3 linked regions of the Homo sapiens genome follow. The protein of the gene in region 2 binds, or shares a complex with, the protein of the main gene of each other region. Each region holds a gene or a part of one and is shown on either strand. Other genes may lie near its edges. A codon is read from its position in the direction of its gene.

The links. The genes of interacting proteins can lie anywhere in the genome.
Region 1: the proteins of RAMP2 (region 2) and CALCR are in contact, whole or in part, in a cryo-EM structure (PDB 7TYX), measured with the Homo sapiens proteins. Residues at the interface, in NP_005845.2 of Homo sapiens: Trp86 (codon at 6,163), Tyr93 (codon at 6,317), Ser94 (codon at 6,320), Arg97 (codon at 6,329), Asp98 (codon at 6,332), Glu101 (codon at 6,341), Leu109 (codon at 6,365), Pro112 (codon at 6,374), Glu117 (codon at 6,389), Ile120 (codon at 6,398), Phe121 (codon at 6,401), His124 (codon at 6,410), Phe128 (codon at 6,422), Cys131 (codon at 6,431), Pro136 (codon at 6,446), Phe138 (codon at 6,452), Ser139 (codon at 6,455), Asp140 (codon at 6,458), Pro141 (codon at 6,461), Leu146 (codon at 6,476), Met149 (codon at 6,485), Ile150 (codon at 6,488), Pro153 (codon at 6,497), Ile154 (codon at 6,500), Leu156 (codon at 6,506), Ile157 (codon at 6,509), Leu160 (codon at 6,518), Ile161 (codon at 6,521), Leu163 (codon at 6,527), Val164 (codon at 6,530); in NP_001158210.1 of Homo sapiens: Arg45, Lys46, Met48, Met49, Asp50, Gln52, Tyr53, Lys54, Tyr56, Asp57, Met59, Gln60, Trp76, Gly78, Arg126, Phe235, Leu238, Ile242, Thr246, Val250, Glu255, Lys256, Gln257, Arg258, Trp261, Tyr262, Leu264, Leu265, Phe269, Pro273.
Region 3: the proteins of RAMP2 (region 2) and CALCRL are in contact, whole or in part, in a crystal structure (PDB 3AQF), measured with the Homo sapiens proteins. Residues at the interface, in NP_005845.2 of Homo sapiens: Trp86 (codon at 6,163), Ile89 (codon at 6,172), Tyr93 (codon at 6,317), Ser94 (codon at 6,320), Arg97 (codon at 6,329), Leu109 (codon at 6,365), Gly110 (codon at 6,368), Pro112 (codon at 6,374), Glu117 (codon at 6,389), Ile120 (codon at 6,398), Phe121 (codon at 6,401), His124 (codon at 6,410), Gln125 (codon at 6,413), Phe128 (codon at 6,422), Ala129 (codon at 6,425), Cys131 (codon at 6,431), Ser132 (codon at 6,434), Leu133 (codon at 6,437), Val134 (codon at 6,440); in NP_001258680.1 of Homo sapiens: Arg38, Asn39, Ile41, Met42, Thr43, Gln45, Tyr46, Glu47, Tyr49, Gln50, Lys51, Ile52, Met53, Gln54, Trp69, Asp70, Gly71, Arg119.

What each region holds. Positions count from the first base shown.
Region 1 is NC_000007.14:93,473,717-93,480,743, reverse strand, and holds part of CALCR (calcitonin receptor isoform 2 precursor), read left to right. Parts: intron 1-1,236; coding exon 1,237-1,390; intron 1,391-3,075; coding exon 3,076-3,186; intron 3,187-7,027. UniProt on the Homo sapiens protein: G protein-coupled receptor activated by ligand peptides amylin (IAPP), calcitonin (CT/CALCA) and calcitonin gene-related peptide type 1 (CGRP1/CALCA).
Region 2 is NC_000017.11:42,756,285-42,763,556, forward strand, and holds RAMP2 (receptor activity-modifying protein 2 precursor), read left to right. Parts: upstream 1-4,942; 5' UTR 4,943-4,977; coding exon 4,978-5,074; intron 5,075-5,549; coding exon 5,550-5,615; intron 5,616-6,070; coding exon 6,071-6,179; intron 6,180-6,312; coding exon 6,313-6,568; 3' UTR 6,569-6,757; downstream 6,758-7,272. UniProt on the Homo sapiens protein: Accessory protein that interacts with and modulates the function of G-protein coupled receptors including calcitonin gene-related peptide type 1 receptor (CALCRL) and calcitonin receptor (CALCR). Required for the transport of CALCRL to the plasma membrane.
Region 3 is NC_000002.12:187,341,456-187,347,271, reverse strand, and holds the end of CALCRL (calcitonin gene-related peptide type 1 receptor precursor), read left to right. Parts: intron 1-872; coding exon 873-1,088; 3' UTR 1,089-5,308; downstream 5,309-5,816. UniProt on the Homo sapiens protein: G protein-coupled receptor which specificity is determined by its interaction with receptor-activity-modifying proteins (RAMPs). Together with RAMP1, form the receptor complex for calcitonin-gene-related peptides CALCA/CGRP1 and CALCB/CGRP2.

The DNA of each region.
Region 1 (7,027 bases), on a different chromosome or scaffold from region 2:
ATTTTTGCTCCCTACTCTCTCCAAACTCTGAATTTTGATTGGATTCTGTGCTGGACAGCTTAGCAGTTAGTGATGTGCTGTCGTGTAGGACATATACAATGACACACATGGAAAACAGTGAGGATTCACCATGAAGAGCCAGGAATATACATGTCAACTTAATAGGGATGAGTTTTGTTTAGAAACTAGCACATATAGAAGAGTACATAACACCACTTCTGCCATCAATACAATTGGAGAAACTTCAATCTTAGAATTGAAATTTCAACGGGTATGATAGAAATTAAGCAGCATTCCTAAATTTAGAAAAAGGAAAGTCAGTGCAGGCTGATGTTTTTAGGTCTCCTCAAAAAAAGAAAAAAAAATCTCTATGCAGAACATGGATATTAAAAATTCGCAGATTCCAACACCACTAAAAACATTGGTCATAGCCACAAAAGAAATTGAAATCTTTATAAACACAAGTTAGGAAGAACAGTGTGACAGAGTGATCTTTTCAAACACCCACATTACCTTTGAAAAAGAGAGGCTTGTGATGGTGATGATTAACTGAAACTGAAAAAAACTATTGTCAATCTGTACCAAAATGCAAATGTGCTGAGATAAATATCTAAGAAATACATTGATTTTTCATTAGTGAACATGAATTGCCCTGTACAGGTCATCTGCTGTTGAAACCAATTTAAGGAGATTATGGTCAATTATGAGGAGCAGAAAACATATTTTGTTTGTTCCATGGAATAGATGGGATAAATTTCTGGCAGTGTACACAGCACCAATAAAATTTAGCTGAAAGAATCAAATAAAAAAGCATATTTATTGAACTATGTCTATTTTTTAATAACATGATTCATGATTCTTAAGAGTAAGGCAAAGTTGATTTCATATTTGTATTTTTTGGAAATTAGATTATTTGTTTTGTTTACTTCTAAACTTTAGAATCATAATACAGTTAAAACAATCCTAGCTGATAAAGAGGTATATGAGTGTGTAGGTGTTATCCATTTTCAATAGTAAATGGAAACTAATGCAAATGTAAAATGTGCCAGTAGAATTTGTAGATGAAATGTGAAAACATTTTTTGTAATATATATGAAAAAAACTGTACATAGAGACCATGAATAAGTATTGCTTAGAGAGCAAAAATAAATGTTTTCAAACTTTTTCATTGTCTCATTTATTTGTGCTCACCCATTCCTCCTGTCTATAAGTAACTGATTTTTCTTTTTAATACAGCACCCAACCCCAATTCTTCCTGCCTTTTCAAATCAAACCTATCCAACAATAGAGCCCAAGCCATTTCTTTACGTCGTAGGACGAAAGAAGATGATGGATGCACAGTACAAATGCTATGACCGAATGCAGCAGTTACCCGCATACCAAGGAGAAGGTAAAGAGAAGGATATATATGAACATATGTTTGAAACACCATTACAGACATTTTCTTTTGTGGTTAAATATGTGTTGAATAATTTTAATTTAATATGCCAGCAGTTTTCACAGCAGTTTTCACACTATGGTATGTTTGTGTATTTCATGCAGTGCATATGCCTAATTTCTTTGCCCAAGTTCATCTGACTGCAATTTGGCTAACATCTGCCCTCATGATAAAATTACCGCAATAATTCAGTATTCACACCTGGTGAGCCGGAACAGTAAAGGACCGAGTGAGGGAGGGGATGTACAAAATGACAGGAAAGGGAATTGGAAAATAGAGGGCAGAGAATTTGCCTGAGGTGGACCCTATCAAACCCTATCTTGCTTGGATTAATTAGGTAGTATCTTCCCTTTAACTGTCAATTGGTTGGCAACCCATACTATTCTTCCACACTTTCTGGCCCCACTTTCCAGGAGAATTACAAAAAGGTACCTCCTAGCCAGACATTGTTTATCTACCAGCTTCTCTAGAATGGCTGTATGTGACTGCCCAGATATTTTCAGGTCTAAACATATTCTATTAGCTGTAGAGGACCCATAGAAAAACAAAAGGGGAGATGTGATGGGCAAGCTCATTGCAACATCCCTTTAAATTCTCCTACTTGTCCCCTGAGGCATTTGAAAAGATTCAATAAGATCTTTTACTATATATATATATATATATATATATTTAAGACAGGGTCTCACTCTCTCGCCCAGGACGATCCTCCCACTTTAGCCTCCTGAGCAGTTGGGACTACAGGTGCATGCCACCATGCCCAGCAAATTTTTGTATTTTTTTGTAGAGATGGGGTTTTGCCATGTTGTCCATGCTGGTCTCCAACTCCTGGGCTCAGGAGAGGTTCCCAAAGTGCTAGGATTACAGGCGTGAGACACTGCATCTGGCCTACTACCATGTACATTTTAAGACAACCCAACTTGGTAGGGAAAAAAATGGTAAAATATACTCTGTTACTGCACATTCTTTGCTTTCAAATAGTTCAAGTTTTAGTTTGTAGTTCTTATTTTTACCATTTTCCTTTAAACAAAAACATCAAGTCAACTGAAAGGCAGATACATATTATTCTTCTGTCTGCAGTAATTTCAGTGTTTATCAAGAACTGAACAGGCATTAGACATAACTCTGACCAAAGGAGAAACAATTTCGTTGAAGCCAGTGAGACAATAAAAACACAGAACTGATATTTTTGGGGTTTTCTGAGAGCTCTTTTCATTTTTTAAATAATTTTTGAGAGCTTTCTTGAAAGCCTGGATCTGATTCTTTTGAATACATACCTTTATAGAAGTAAATCTTCATGGTTTTAGGTAGAATTTTTTTTTTTTTTTTTTTTTTTTTTTTTTTTTTGAGAGAGGGTCTTGCAGTCTTTGGGGCATTTGCTTTTTTGATGCACTCAACTTTGGAACCTTTTACAAAGTAGAAATAGAACCCTGCTTGTCATCCAATGAGATAATTTGGTCACAGATATGCTAAGCCTATTTGAAACTTTATTTCCAAAATAAATGACTTGGCTTGTTTGAAATGTGGTTGGTTATGACTGGTGTAGTGAGCTCAGCTACTTGTAATATCGTCTTGGGATCAATCTTCTCATTTAGTTAAATCCACAAGGCTTCAATATCAATTTCCTTCTAAATGGCCAGGTCCATATTGCAATCGCACCTGGGATGGATGGCTGTGCTGGGATGACACACCGGCTGGAGTATTGTCCTATCAGTTCTGCCCAGATTATTTTCCGGATTTTGATCCATCAGGTAGAGTGTTTATTTTCATTTTATGTTCTTGCTATGAAGCTTTTAGAGTTTTCATGGTTTTGAGAAGAAAATCAGATACAAAATGTACCCACCTAATCATACTCCACATTTTAGCAACTTCTGAAGTGTTTCCTTAATTGAAATACTTCTTAGTTGTACAAATATTACAAGCTGTCCTTTTTTTTAAGTCATGTTGCTGGTCAGTTATATGTGTTGGTATTAAATTCTGGTTTATAAAAATAGCTTTTCTAAAACTCTGTGAATAGTTTTATTTAAATGTGAGTTTTAAAAATTTTTCAATTGTCTCACTGAAAAAGGGGTAGAAATCTTAATTATGAAGGAGACCCAGATGCTGAAACTAAATGGATTAGCTATGGGCACAACATATAGGTCCCTGTTAATGGGTGAAATTTGTTCCCAAGAGTAAAGTGAGCCTGAGCCTACAGGGGTTAAGTGGCTCTAGAATCCCAATTAAAGAAGAAAAATGAGTCTACCCCTGAAACAATGTTAGAAAAATGCTTTTTGTGCTTCCTTCCAGAGTGAAAGATCTAATCTGTCCCTGAAAACAAAATTTCACCTCAGTAAGGCAGAGATAATGGAAGTGGAATTGCAGAGGACCTCTTTTAAAACCAGTGCAGGCCAGCCACTTCTGGGAATTCCCATTGTGATGGAAAAGTTGGGATGTGAAGAAAGAAAGGGCTTTGTGCTGTGCCCTAAATCAGCTACATTCCTGGAATCTCTAACTAAATGCTATTTGATGATAATCCTTCAGGCCCTTATTGACTCTTCCCAATGAATGATGCTTCATTAATCTTGATTTGACAACTACATTAGAAGTTACTTGATTGGCACGAAGAGCTGTTGTGCAATTGAGGCTACTAGGCCAGTTCCAAAGTAACAATGGGGCTCTTGCCAAAGTGGATATAAATAGTGACTACAAGGCAAGGTTTTGATAAAAAAATCAGAGATTTACAGGCATCGATCCATCTTTTCAGCCTGGTTCTTATACAGAAACCTCTCAGCTGCAGGATAAATTCATTTTAAAAGTGTATCTGAAATATATACATATATTCCAAACTTAAATTATAAACATATACATAACATAATATATATATACACATACACACACATACCAAACTTAAATTCTTCAGGATTTTCTTATTGACCTAAAGCTTACATCTTAATGATGTACAAAACACATTAATGAAATGCCAGAGGTTTGTTTCACTTTGGAAAAAGTACTTGGTAAAAGATAGTGAAAGAGTGAAGAACTGTATTGAAATTCAAAAGAGGCTGACATTCTGAAGGAATATGCTGGAATGTAAAAAGCAAAATTTAACAAGGAAGCATTTACAGCCCTGCACTTGAAGACAAACAAACAATTTTAATGGCACAGAGCCATTAAATGGTCCAAATATGGTTTGGGACGGTGATTCTCAACCCAGATGCCCTTTCACAAAATGAAAAAAAAAATTGTGAGCTTATGAAAAATGCAGATGCCTGACCCCTGTCCAGATCAATAGAATTTGAATCTCTAGGGACAGGACCTCGGAATCTGCAAGTAGTTCCCCTGCGTGAATCTGGAGTGAGAGAAGCACATTGTACTTTTCATGGGTCAGTCCACACATAGAGTATTTTAGAGAGAAATATCAATTATCAAAGCACATGTGGAGAGTCTCCAGGCTGTTAGCGGAAAATCTGTGGGGAGTGAATAATGGGGGTGTTTGGTTTCTAAAGGGAAGTCCCAGAGTAAACATAATCCTTTCTTCAAGTATTGAAAGACTCATCAGGTGAAGTAGGACAAATTCTTGATAGTTATAACAGTTAAAACCAAGAAATGACTCGATCCAGACTTTAGTTAAAACAAAACAAAAAATACCATTTGCTATGGCCTTGTTCATGAGTGGAATGACCTTCTTTAAGAGTAGTATCTCTCTGCATACAATATATTTTCCCATACCTGGCTGCATAACTTCATTGAAACCAAATTACATTCATTTTATTTAAAAAAAAAACTACTTTCTGCAATCTAATAAATATAAATTGTGGCCACTTTTAAAAATTGCAAGTAAGCTTGGAAGGGTTGTCATTGACAAATAACATTAGCAAAATAATCGACAAATTTTCAACATCAATTTTTTGTGCTGATTAGTGCTAATCCTTTTTCACATGTTGTTAATGTCCAATAGAGATGCTTTAAATAGGGTTTGTCTAGTGGCTATCTCAGTAAATTTACAGTTTTAAGTTTTCTTATTTAACTTTGTAACAGATTTACATGAAGCAGTAATGATTCTAATAGGTTGCTTGAAAACATCTTTTGCTTGAAAAAATGTTTTTTCATCCATTTTAAATAAAAATTAAACATACAAATAACTCTATAACCTGCAGTTTAAATCTTGCATTTAGTTCAATAAGACCTGTTTTGGTCATACAATAAAAAATGATGAATTATACCTAAAAATTGCCAAGTTGAAAGGATTTTTTTACTAGCTCTTAGCAGATTGAGTAACCAAAACTACTAATAGAAAATTATTTTAAATATTATCAGATCTCAGTGATTTTTCAGCCCAATAAGTTTCTCTTTTCTTTAGTATGTTATTTCCTTAGCCTTTTAAACAATAGCAGTGTTCTTCAAATATTACCATATGATTCTGATTTCCACATCCTGTGCTAAAAAAGAACATAGCCATCTATAAAAGCATTATCTATACGTACAACAATGCTTTGCCTTTGTTAACATAGAAAAATGCTTCAAAAATATTTTCCCTGAGAAATGATCAAAGATTAAAATTTTGTGAAGATTCCAAATACACTTGCAAAATCTCCCTGCATATTATACCAATCTAGGCTTGCTATTTGATCTCTCAGACAATAAACACATCGAATGGGTGCTTTGAAGAACTGGAGAGTATCTGAATAACTCAGATTAAATTTGGCAAGTACATTCATTTTAGTGTTTACTTGTTCATTATTTCTATGTTATTTAATTCAACCTGATTTTTTCTTTCAGTTGCTTGGCCAATTCAGAGGTTAGAATTTAAATATTATCTTGTAGCTAACAACATTATCTAAAATTCTTTAGGTCACTGGAATGGAATGTAGATAACCTTGATCATTTATGAGATTTCACCTTCTAGAGTCCCAGTACCAAATTAAAATATTGTTGACCAGTATTATAATACAAAAGCGAGGTTTTTTTTAGACAATCCAGCCAAATTCTAATTTTATTTCAGTGCCATTTTAGTTGTTTGCTAACAATTATACTAGTTTTACAGTGTGTTTATCCTGCTGATAATAGTGTCTTGATAAATATTATCTCACCATTCTGACCACTTTTTACTCCCAATATATATTGATGTGATTTCCCAGCCTCATGCACTTTACCCAGAATCTCAGATATATACTCAGTTAATAATTAAGCAAAATACAGAACAAAGAAGTTTTCTTATTTATTTTTAAGATGGAGCACTTGATGTAGGGTCTGGTATATTTTAAGTTATCAAATGTTATTTTAAAAAATTATTGTAGTTGCTATGGTGGCCTAATATTTTAGTGTGAATTTCAGCAAAGATATGAGTCATCCCCATGAGAACTTATTATTTCTATCAAGTTTGGAACTTTACTTTGTACTGATACATATACACTGCCTAAAAAAATTAAAATAAAAAAAGCAGCAAGGCTTTATCATACTGTAACCAGCACTGAATATATCACACAAAAATAATTGAAAAAATAATAAGCCTGATGGGAACCAGCAGACACCACAAAGCAAGCACTTGGAAAAAGTTCTTTCTCAGGGCTCAAAGAAAATCTTCTTATCCTTTTCCTCCAAAATATTTTA
Region 2 (7,272 bases):
GTGTGTGGTGGTGGTGGAAGTTGAAGATTAGAGATGCCACTCTTCCTAAGGGTCAAGTCACCTCTTGCCCTGCTCCAGGCAGGATGACCCTTGGCCTGTAACAAGAAAGGAAGTGGCAGTAGGATGGTAGTAGGATCCCTGCTCATGAGGAATTAACCTACACTGGGGCCAGAAGTCTCAGGACAATGTTCAGCTGGACAAGAACCAGATCCCTCTCTTTCCAAGCCCTAGGTGGTGCGGGGTGGGGGCAGAGGAATAAGGAAATGTGTAAGAAATGTAAAAACTAGATGTATGGCCGGGGGCGGTAGCTCACGCCTGTAATCCCAGCACTTTGGAGGCCGAGGCAGGTGGATCACCTGAGGTCAGGAGTTCGAGACCAGCCTGACCAACATGGTGAAACCCTGTCTCTACTAAAAATACAAAAATTAGCTGGGCGTGGTGGTGGGCGCCTGTAGTCCCAGCTACTCGGGAGGCTGAGGCAGGAGAATCGCTTGAACCCAGGAGACGGAGGTTGCAGTGAGTCGAGATAGCACCATTGCACTCCAGCTTGGGCAACAAGAGCGAAACTCCATCTCAAAAACAAACAAACAACCAAAAAAACAAACAAACTAGATTTCCAGGCCAGGCCCGGTGGCTCACACCTGTAATTCCAGAATTTTGGGAGGCCAAGGTGGGCAGATCACTTAAGGTCTGGAGTTTGAGACAAGCCTGGCCAACATGGTGAAACCCTGTCTCTAGTAAAAATACAAAAATTAGCTGGGCCTTGTAGGGGGCATCTGTAATCCCAGCTACTGGGAGGCTAAGGCAGGAGAATTGCTTGAACCTGGGAGGCGGAGGTTGCAGTGAGCTAAGATCACACCACTGCACTCCAGCCTGGGCAACAGAGCAAGACTCTGTCTCAAAAATAAATAAATAAAAAACAAACAAAGAAAACCCCCTAGATTTCACTGGACATAAGGAAAAAAAAGACTAAAGGCAATACTACGTACAGTTAAAAAGAAAGAGGCATACATACATATGTAGTATCATGGAAAGATATCCAAGACATGTTACTAAGTGTTCCCTCCTTTCCTTCCTTTTTCCCCTTCCCCTTCCCCTTCCCTTCCTTTCTTTCTTCTTTTTCTATTTGGAGACAAGGTCTCACTCTGTAGCCCATGCTGGAATGCAGTGGCATGATCATGGCTCACTGCAGCCTTAAAATTCTGGGCTCAAGGGATCCTCCTGTCTCAGCCTGCTGTGGAGCTGGGACTACAGGCATGTGCCACCAAGCCTGGCTAATTTATTTTTATTTTTTGTAGAGACAGGGTCTTGCCATGTTGCCCAGGCTGGTCTTGAACTCCTGACTTCAAGTGATCCTCCTGCCTTGGTCTTCCAAAGTGTTGGGTTTACAGGTGTGAGGCACTGTGCCTGGCTTCTTTATTATCATTATTATTATTTTAGACAGAGTCTCGCTATATCACCCAGGTTAGTCTCCAATTCCTGGGCTCAAGTTCCTGCTTCAGGCTCCCGAGTAACTGGGATTACAGGCATGAGCTGCATACCCAGCAATAGTATCACATTTTTTAAAAGACACTGAGGCCAGGCACAGTGGCTCACACCTGTAATCCCAGCATTTTGGGAGGCCAAGGCAGGTGGATCCCTTGAGGTCAGGAGTTCAAGACAAGCCTGGCCAACCTGGTGAAACCCTGTCTCTACTAAAATACAAAAATTAGCTGGATGTGGCGGCGTACACATGTAATCCCAGCTGCTCAGGAGGCTGAGGCAGTAGAATCACCTGAACCTGGGAAGCGGAGGTTGCAGTGAGCCAAGATGGCGCCACTGCACTCCAGCCTGGGCAACAGAGCAAGACTCCATCTCAAGAAAAAAAAAAGTCACTGAATAATAGGAGTATCAAATCCCATTTATGCTTTCCTTTAAAAAAATCCAGAATATGTGGGAAATGAGATATGAGTGGGGATACAAAGTTTTCTGGGTTAAATATTTTGCAACAAGTATATACTTACATATTACTTGCAATTTAAAAACTGTATTTTTTAATAGCAAAAGCAGAAAGGGGCTTAGAAAGGGAATGTGAGGGCCCTCAGGAGTGGAAAACAGGGGACTTCCCATGACGAAACTAGCTTCTGTTCCTAATACGGCCCTTCCTCTACCCATTGCTACAGATCATCAGATCGTGGGACTATCTCCTATGGCTACATGGAAAAGAAAGGTGAGGTCTCCTGTCCCTATTCATCTCCAAAGACCCCCAAAGTAAACCCTCAGTTACCCGGATGCTCTCAGAGGTCGATAAAAACATTCAAACATCCAACTGGCATGGAAAAGTGGAAGAGGAAAATCAAAACGAGAGAAAATTCCCAGATTCTCCAATTAGACAGTTTGGACACCTGAGCTCAGGAATGACTACAATAAGTTCTCCTTTGGAGGTCTCAACATCATGATGCAAACTTAACCCCAACCCTAGGCTAAAAATAAAACTTCCCAAGGGCCAGGTGCAGTGGTTCATGCCTGGAATCCCAACACTTTAAGAGACTGATGCAGGAAGATTGCTTGAAGCCAGGAGTTCGAGACCAGCCTCGGCAAAAAAGCAAGACCCCCATATCTACAAAAAATATGCCTGCTGTCCTAGCTACTTGGGAGACTGAACCAGGAGGATCTCTTGAGCCTAGAAGCTCAAGACTGCAGCATGCCATGATTCTTCCACCGCACTCCAATGTGGGCAACAGAGTGAGCCCCTGTTCCTAAAAAGTAAAGTAAGATAAAAATAAAATAGGAACTTCCTACCAAGTTACCTATATTTTCTTTTTTGATCTTAAGGCCATTTTACATATGAAAATCTTGAGCTCCAGAGATGTGAAATAACCTGCTCAAGTTACTTGCAGTAAGACAGAGGCAGAACCTACCTTCAGAATCCTCATCAGTTTTTTTCTTTCATCCGTTATGATTATCCATTATCATTATGCCATATTGTCCTTTTTTTTTTTTTTTGAGATAGGGCACAATCACAGCTCTCTGCAGCCTCAACCTCTGGGGCTCAAGTGATCCTCCTGCCTCAGCCTCCCGAGTAGCTGGGACTACAGGTGCACACCACTATGCCAGGCTAATTTTTTAAAAATTTTTTTATAGTTTTTTTTTTGTAGAGACAGGGTTTCACTATGTTGCCCAGGCTCTATTTTAAATCTAACATTTGCTTTTGTCCCCTTTAATCTTGACCCCAACCCCAGTCCTAACCCATAGTGGGCTCATGTGCTTCTGGCCCCAACCCAGTGAAAATGGCTTGTTTTGCTTTCTGCACCTCCTTGCTCCTTCCTCCCATCTTATCACTCAGAAATCTCCCATGCTTCCTTCTTGAAAGGAGCAATCCTAGGCAGGCAGGAAGGACTAGATTTGGTCCCAGCCTGAAATGTCTCAGAGACTGCATGGCTCTTTTCTGCATCATTGTAGAAATGATCCTTACCAGGAGGACTTTGGAGTTCACGTCAAGCAGGCCATTGACTCTCTCCCACTGGATTCTTTGCAAAAGCAGCCTCTTGACCATAGAGGAGGACAACAGGTTATCCGTGCCCATGATCCAAGAGCTTGAGATCCTGAGATGAAGACTTCAGGAGAGATCAGGACAGATAATTTGTGGTGGGCAGGAATCAGTAAACTGGGACAACAGCAGCAGCTGAGTCCAAGGGTCAGTGTCTGGGAGTAATTTAGGAAAGTTTGGTGCTGACAGCTGTGTCTGGGACTTGAACGTCATGGCCAAACCAGCTCCTGGGCTCCTCAGCTGCTTCAGACTAATGAACCTCTGGCCCAGGACACAAGAAGCAGCTGTGGTGTGGCTGAAGTCAGGACCCCCGGAGGCCCAGACTCAGCCTTGCTGCTTCCTTAACAGTGTGACCTTAGATAAGTCACTTAGGAAAAGAGGAAAGGAAACTAGCATTTAGCGAGTGCAGTGCCCTTTCACAGCTGCCATCATACAGTGAGGAGGGGAATGTCCCTATTTCACATGAGAAGTCCTGAAGGTAAACGTGTCATTCAAGGCTCTATAGCTGGGGAGTAAGAAGACAGAATTAGAACCCAGAGCTTCTGAATTCAAATCCCGGGCTGTTGGCCCTGAGCTTTAGCTTCTCGGTCTGTAAAATGGTGTTACACTCACCTGGCACATGAAGTCGCACACTGAAGGTTCTAAAACCCCTCCATTCTTTCTCCCAACCGTGGTCCTGAAGAGCTGTGGCACCTTCTTCCTGGGAACGTAGTCATCGTATTTTGCCCTCCCCACAACAGGTTTGTGGGGTCTAGGCCCCAGGAGGTGTCTGAAGGGAAGGTATTTGGACTTTGCTTTCCCCTCTACCCCACTCCCCAGACCTTCTCCCGACTCCAGAGGGCTGGCTCCCGCTTCTCCTCCCTGGTTTTGGCTGGCGGACTGACATCAGCTGGTATTCCTAGGGATAGGATAAGGAACCCTGAGCTGCATGGCTCAGCTCCAGGCGCCCCTTCCCCCACAACCCAGGACAGCCCCTTAGAAGCAGCGGCGTCGAGAGGCCGCTGGAGCTCCCAGCCCCCTCCCTCTTCTCCACGTCTGGGAGAGCAGCTTGCCGACCCCTCCAGACCCGAAAGAGAGAGGGGGCGACTCGAATTCGGGGAGCGATCCTGGGAGACCCTGGAGAGTCCTGGGCGCCACGCAGCCGAGCCCCCGAAATAGATCCCGGTTCCGGGGTTCCGGGAGCTGTCCAGCCTCGCGGGGTGAGCTACGAGAGGGTGGGCCAACGCCGGCGAGGCGGAGGGAGCCGCGGGCGCCAGGCGCGGGTGAGGCAGCGACTCCCCCTCCAGCCGCGGGCCCCGAGCGTCGCCCCCGCCCCCCACGTGGCCGCCGCCGTCCCAGCCCCTCCGAGGAAGCGGCGCGGCTTCCTGCAGCTTGGGCTGGGGATATAGGCGCCCCCACACCCGGGCCCGGCTCAGCGCCGCCGCCGCTCCTCGCCTCCTTGCTGCACGATGGCCTCGCTCCGGGTGGAGCGCGCCGGCGGCCCGCGTCTCCCTAGGACCCGAGTCGGGCGGCCGGCAGCGCTCCGCCTCCTCCTCCTGCTGGGCGGTGAGCGCGGCGCCCCGAGGCCCGGGCGGGAGGCGCGAGAGGCCCCGGAGGGGAGAGGGGAGAGGGGAGAGGGGCTGGATGGCCGAGGCCGGAACGGGCCCTGGGGTGCGGGTTAGGACCGACGTACCTAGCAGCACTGGCCCTCGGACGGTCCCTGACCCCACCTCGGGGCGGGCGCAGCATGAGCTGCTTCCCACCCAGGGAAAGCTGGGGTGCTGGCCCCGGCCCCTCGAAGAGGGCTTAGGAGGACGGAAGCTGGCCAGAGATGAGGGGGCTTTGGGCCTGGGTGTGAGTGACAAGGAGCTGGTGCCAGCCCCTCCCTCCCCGGCACTGAGGCGTCCGTGGGGGCTAGATTATTCCTCCTTTTCTTCCAAGGTAGCCTATTTTCGGAGGGTCTCAGTCCCCCAACCCCCCTCGCAGGCTCCACTGCCGGGGTCCCCGCTATGTTACCCTCCTCTCCCGTTTCTTCCCACAGCTGTCCTGAATCCCCACGAGGCCCTGGCTCAGCCTCTTCCCACCACAGGCACACCAGGGTCAGAAGGTGGGTACCCAGGGTGTGGAAGGGTGGCCGAGGGTAAGGACGAGAGCAAGTTCAGTGGGGAGGGTTCCTTTCCCACGAGGCCTGCCCAACCCCAGCTGATGCCCCACTACACTCCCCTCTGTTCTTTCTTGGGGTTCCTCGTGGTCTTTCTCCCTGTCCTCCTACAAAGCCCCTGCACGGCTCTGAGCTGCCCACCTCACAAGTGGGCGAGAAGACCCCAGGAAAAGGTGTACGTGGAAGTTCTTATCAGGCTGGGATGGAAAGTGCTTAGCACATGGAAGTCATTATAGGATTCCTGAGCTGGGACTCTGTCCTCAGCCAGAATGTTTTGCTAGGGAAACTTTCTGAAGGGTTCCCACGTTTGAAGACAGGCAGTTCACCTTGCAAGCACCTGGGCAGGAGGGTTTGTAGGGAGGGGTAGGGGTGTGGTCATTGTGTAGCATCTGTACCTACAGGGGGGACGGTGAAGAACTATGAGACAGCTGTCCAATTTTGCTGGAATCATTATAAGGATCAAATGGATCCTATCGAAAAGGATTGGTGCGACTGGGCCATGATTAGCAGGTAGGGGCAGTGATGGAGGGTGGCTCAGGCCAGGGGGTGGACCTGCTCATTGCAGGTAGACCCTGAGTGAGAGTGGGGCACTCTTCTCCCTGGGTCCACCCCCTCTCTCACTCAAGTCCTCTTCTGCCCCTAGGCCTTATAGCACCCTGCGAGATTGCCTGGAGCACTTTGCAGAGTTGTTTGACCTGGGCTTCCCCAATCCCTTGGCAGAGAGGATCATCTTTGAGACTCACCAGATCCACTTTGCCAACTGCTCCCTGGTGCAGCCCACCTTCTCTGACCCCCCAGAGGATGTACTCCTGGCCATGATCATAGCCCCCATCTGCCTCATCCCCTTCCTCATCACTCTTGTAGTATGGAGGAGTAAAGACAGTGAGGCCCAGGCCTAGGGGGCCACGAGCTTCTCAACAACCATGTTACTCCACTTCCCCACCCCCACCAGGCCTCCCTCCTCCCCTCCTACTCCCTTTTCTCACTCTCATCCCCACCACAGATCCCTGGATTGCTGGGAATGGAAGCCAGGTGGGGTCATGGCACAAGTTCTGTAATCTTCAAAATAAAACTTTTTTTTTGTACAATGTCCTTCTCCCCATTTCAGTGGAACCTGTGTCCTTCCCTGCCACTGCCACAGGCCCTCAGCCCTGGGTAGTAGAACTGGAAAAATCTGGATGGCCCATTGTTCTGTTCATTTCACCTGCCCCCCTGCTCCCTGCCTCCATGAAGGTCACACCCCTATATTCTTTCCTCCCAGGCGGGCCTTTCCTGCCTATATCCAAACTCGGCTCCAGGAAACAAGCAGGAAGAGACTCCCTTCCGGTCTGGACAGCAGCTGGGGGCCTGCAACTGGGGAGGTGTGGGGGAAGGGGCAAGGGAGGAATCTCTGCTTGTGACTCCTGCAAGAGGAGCAGGAGGCTGCCCAGGAGCCCTGACTATTCCTCTTCTTCATGCTTCAGTTTACTCACAGGGCCTGGGAAGAGGAACCCTGACTGAGCAACAGGAATCCATTCCTAAGGCCCTCACAATTGAGGGAGAAAGCAGTGGGGGCTTCCTTTACTAGGTTCACCACCCCTCTCCATGTCCCTTGCCCTCATCC
Region 3 (5,816 bases), on a different chromosome or scaffold from region 2:
ATGGAAAAGTCCTCAACGTACTTGAGCTAGAGATGTATTTAAATGTTCTCATTTGTGCCCATTGACTGACAATGAAGAAAATTCACTCTTGTGCCTTACATTCCATTATGACCAATATTTTACTGTATAGGACCCACCTACCCCTGATCTCTAGCTTCAAACAGAGGGGAAGGAAGTCATTAAACTGCAAATTTATTCAGCAGAAGAGGATTCAAATATATAAAAATGGAGTGGTTACATTCCTAAATTTATTTTTCACAATATTCACCAGATTTATAATTATTTGTTCAACACTTTTCTTTCCTCTATGTAGTAAGCTCCATGAAGACAAATATCATGCTCCCTTTTTTAGAATGTAGCACAATTTCTGGCATATGGGAGTCACTCAGAAACAAAGGTTGCTGCTACTGCCCTGCTGCTGCTGCTGCTGATTTGTATTCTTCGTATCCTAACTTCTTTTCTTTTGTGTATCTTTCGCTTATCCTGTCACGAATTGTCTTCTCATTCTATTAATAAAGACATTAATATAAAACTCAATGTTGCACATGAAATCTTGTAAATGGGGGTCCAGATTACCTATTTGTTTGGCAACAATAAATACATATGAATTATAAAAGCTTTGAAGACAAAACATGCCATGAAAAATATTAATGGAATGTAAAGTACAATGTAATTGTAATACATTTCCTAATGTGAAGATGGTACACTTAATTTTTTAAATTAAGAAAATGAAGCTATATTATTCACTGATTAACATAACTTTTTTTAAAAAAGCTCTTCTCCAAGACCTATTTAATTGTGCTTCAAAAACAGTGTCTTCATTTCAATTAATGGGTTGTTCTTGTTCTTTCTGTTTTCCTTTTGATTGATAGGTTCAAGCAATTCTGAGAAGAAACTGGAATCAATACAAAATCCAATTTGGAAACAGCTTTTCCAACTCAGAAGCTCTTCGTAGTGCGTCTTACACAGTGTCAACAATCAGTGATGGTCCAGGTTATAGTCATGACTGTCCTAGTGAACACTTAAATGGAAAAAGCATCCATGATATTGAAAATGTTCTCTTAAAACCAGAAAATTTATATAATTGAAAATAGAAGGATGGTTGTCTCACTGTTTTGTGCTTCTCCTAACTCAAGGACTTGGACCCATGACTCTGTAGCCAGAAGACTTCAATATTAAATGACTTTTTGAATGTCATAAAGAAGAGCCTTCACATGAAATTAGTAGTGTGTTGATAAGAGTGTAACATCCAGCTCTATGTGGGAAAAAAGAAATCCTGGTTTGTAATGTTTGTCAGTAAATACTCCCACTATGCCTGATGTGACGCTACTAACCTGACATCACCAAGTGTGGAATTGGAGAAAAGCACAATCAACTTTTCTGAGCTGGTGTAAGCCAGTTCCAGCACACCATTGCATGAATTCACAAACAAATGGCTGTAAAACTAAACATACATGTTGGGCATGATTCTACCCTTATTGCCCCAAGAGACCTAGCTAAGGTCTATAAACATGAAGGGAAAATTAGCTTTTAGTTTTAAAACTCTTTATCCCATCTTGATTGGGGCAGTTGACTTTTTTTTTGCCCAGAGTGCCGTAGTCCTTTTTGTAACTACCCTCTCAAATGGACAATACCAGAAGTGAATTATCCCTGCTGGCTTTCTTTTCTCTATGAAAAGCAACTGAGTACAATTGTTATGATCTACTCATTTGCTGACACATCAGTTATATCTTGTGGCATATCCATTGTGGAAACTGGATGAACAGGATGTATAATATGCAATCCTACTTCTATATCATTAGGAAAACATCTTAGTTGATGCTACAAAACACCTTGTCAACCTCTTCCTGTCTTACCAAACAGTGGGAGGGAATTCCTAGCTGTAAATATAAATTTTGTCCCTTCCATTTCTACTGTATAAACAAATTAGCAATCATTTTATATAAAGAAAATCAATGAAGGATTTCTTATTTTCTTGGAATTTTGTAAAAAGAAATTGTGAAAAATGAGCTTGTAAATACTCCATTATTTTATTTTATAGTCTCAAATCAAATACATACAACCTATGTAATTTTTAAAGCAAATATATAATGCAACAATGTGTGTATGTTAATATCTGATACTGTATCTGGGCTGATTTTTTAAATAAAATAGAGTCTGGAATGCTATATTTGGTAAATATTTTAAAGACAACCAGATGCCAGCATCAGAAGTCTGTTTGAGAACTAAGAGAACAGAAACATCTATCATAAGATATATTTATTTTAAAAACACAAGGTCACTATTTTATTGAATATATTTGTTTTGATAACTCATACCTTAATAATAGGTGTGTTTGACATATTTCTTTTTTCATTTTGACAATGAACTCACATTCTAATCCAGAAATTTTAAACAACTACTGTGATAAATACCAATCTGCTACTTTTATAGATTTTACCCCATTAAAATATTACTTTACTGACTTTTACTATGTGAAGATATATAGCTTTGGAAATGTCCCAGGCTATTCAAGAAATATAAAAAACTAGAAGGATACTATATATACCATATACAATGCTTTAATATTTTAATAGAGCTACTGTATATAATACAAATTAGGGAAATACTTGAATATATCATTGAGAAAAAATTATTGTCAGATCTTACTGAATTATTGTCAGACTTTATTAAATAAAGATAGAAGAAAACCTTGCTAATGAATTAAAGTGAAATTTGCATGGGATTCAGTTTCTCTAATGTTATTTTCCGCTGAAATCTCTAAAGAACAAGAATGACTTCAATTAGTAAAAGTCAATTTTGGGAAAAGTCATGGGTATCTGTTTTTTAAGTGTGTCAATCTGATTAAAATGGATGAAACAAATTACTCATCATAAGTTGTTTCTTAAGCTGTCAATATGTCAATAGATGGTGAGTTCAGAACTTATTTCAAATTGCTAAGACAAATTATCTAAATTCGTAAGAATTAACATATAGAATGGTCTGGTCAGTACATTTATAATTTATCTATGCATGAAAAAGTATTGTTTTGTTTGAAACATGAATTTCATAGCAAGCTGCCATAGAAAGGAACGCAGGCTGTTCTAGACCTTCAACTGCCTAAATTATACAAAAATTCATTTTAATAAACTCAATTATTAGCTATTTATTATTCAAAGACCCATATTTAAATCCTTTGCTGACCATGTTGACATATATCAGCCTTCTTCTAGACAAACTGTCAACTCTCAACCATCTTGACAGTAGAAGTGACAGTAAAAAATGTTGAATGATCAGAGATTATATTAAAATAAACATGTAATTTTCAAGTATTTTTGTTGTGCTTTTATAATATTAATTCTAGATCAGATTTATTTTATAGCCAGGGTTTGTCTGTTGTAGAGTCTTGAGGCGTAGCAGTCATTCATGATTAATCACTGTTAGTTTTGTACCCATATATTTTTAGAATAGTTTTAAATGTTAGATTTCTCAAAAGCTAAATGCTACTTAATATCTTTGTATCATACTCATAAAGCAAAGTAAATCTGACACTTTTTTTAAAGCAAACTTCTTTGCTGTCAAAAAAATAAATTTGGGGAAATTTCTAGCTTTTAAAATGTAGATCTGCATTTTACTGTGATTACTTGTGAAAGTCATATTTTAATTTTCTAAATTCTAATTTGTCATTTTATTTCCTAAAGTTAATTTCCAATGCATTTATTCATAAAATATTCATTCTGGAATGCAGTGTTTGTTTAAATGTAATCCAATGTATATAGAATTAGTGGTGGCTGTAGTGCTGTATTTATTGCTTATAATTTTTTTTAAATGTGAACTTACTTTTAATTTTCTCTTGGTTTTAATCTGCTAGTAGAAACCACTAGTTATCTGTAAAAATATATTCAAGATATTCTGATCAATTATAACAATTTATGTTATGCCTAGAGTATATCTCTATTTTTTGATTGTATGAAAATATTAAAGTTATGAGTTAAAGTTTATTTTCACTGATATTTACTACAGTGCCAAATAATCTAATTTATAAACATAATTCTTACAGTAATCAATGGGATACTTCTCAAAATTAACAAATCTCTTAACAAAATATATCTTTTGCCCTCTTTAAAGTCTTCAGTAAACCAGTAAATGAATTCAATAAACCAATTAAGAAAAAGTCATGATTTGTTTTTCAAACTAAAAAAATCCAACTATACTACAATGGATGCAAACTCCTTCTTATGCTGAAAGAAGAAAAAGGATGTCTCAAAATAAGAAAATGTTCAGAAATTCATCTCCTTTATCTACTATATTTCATTTTGTAGTTTTGTTTAAATATTAGAAAGAAAAATAAGTATTTAAAGGTAATTTTTAAAGAGGGCATATTCATGGCTCTCACACAAATATAAAATGAAAATGTTTCAAAGATTTCGTTTAACTCATTAATTAATGAAGGAACAAGTAAGATGTTACAAAAATTCAAAGGAGAATTCAAAATATCACACTATATGAGAATATTAAAAATGTTGAAATAAATTTATAAATAAGTGCAAAACCACTCTATCCTTAGGGCAATAATCAGTTGCATTCCACTTAATAACTAATTTTTATTTTTATGATCAATAATAATGTACATCATTTTCTGTTTTCTGGAGAAAATGCCCATTTAAAACACTTGTGTTTTTTTCTTATAATCTCTCCTCCTTGTGATTATACTAATCTCAAAGAAAGAATATTCTTGATTAAAAATATTGCTAGTTTAATAAGGTTTGGCCTATTGTTGAGATAGGTACATGAGAGTGTTAATTACAATATAGACCTCCTCAAGTTGGTTTTACAAATCTAGAACCATAGTGCACTTTTTAACAGCTTCATTGAGATATACTTGACATATCATATAATACTTCATATTCAAAGCAGTTTTTAGTATATTAGTAGAGTATATTTTAATACATCCATAGAGACACGCTACCATCACCAATTTCATTACATTTTTATGACCTTGAGAAGAAACAGTGTATCCTTTAGCCATCACTTCTCTATCCCTCTATCTCTACTTTCATTTCAGCTATAAACATCACTAATTTACATTCTGTCTCAACAGATTTCCCTATTCTAGACTTTCATATGATTGTAATCATATAGTATGTGACCTTTTGTGACTAAATGATTTCACTTATGTTTTTAAAATTCATTCATGTTTTGGCATGTATCAATGTTTCCTTTTATTCCATTGGGTGAACATACCACATTTTATTTATTCATTTGTCTGTTGATGGATATGTTTGTTTTGCTTTTACCTTTTGGTTATTATAAATAATATACCTATAAACATTTGTTTGCAAGTTTTTGTTTGTAAAAAAGTTTTCATTTCTTTTCAGGACATTTGCAAAACAGCCAGATCATTTTACATTCCCACCAGCAGTGTATGAAGGGTTCTGAATTCTCCATTTTTCTCAACACTTGTTATTACCTGTCTTTTTTATTTTAGACATCCTAATGGATGTGAAATGGTACCTGGTAGTTTAATTTTCATTTCTCTGATGGTTAAAGATGTCAAGCATCTATTGGCCATGTGTAATCTTTTTTGGAGGAATATTTATTCAGATTATTGGTCCATTATTAATTTGGTTGTCTTTTTATTATTGATATATATATATATCAATATGTATATATATATAGTCTCACACACTCACATCTGCAAATATATATGTATAGGTCTCTTTTCAGATAATTTGCAAATACTTTCTCCCATTCTGTGAATTGTCTTGTCCCTTTCTTAATTGTGTCCTTTGATGCATAAAAGGTAACAATTATTTATTAAGTACATTTTTTTCTTT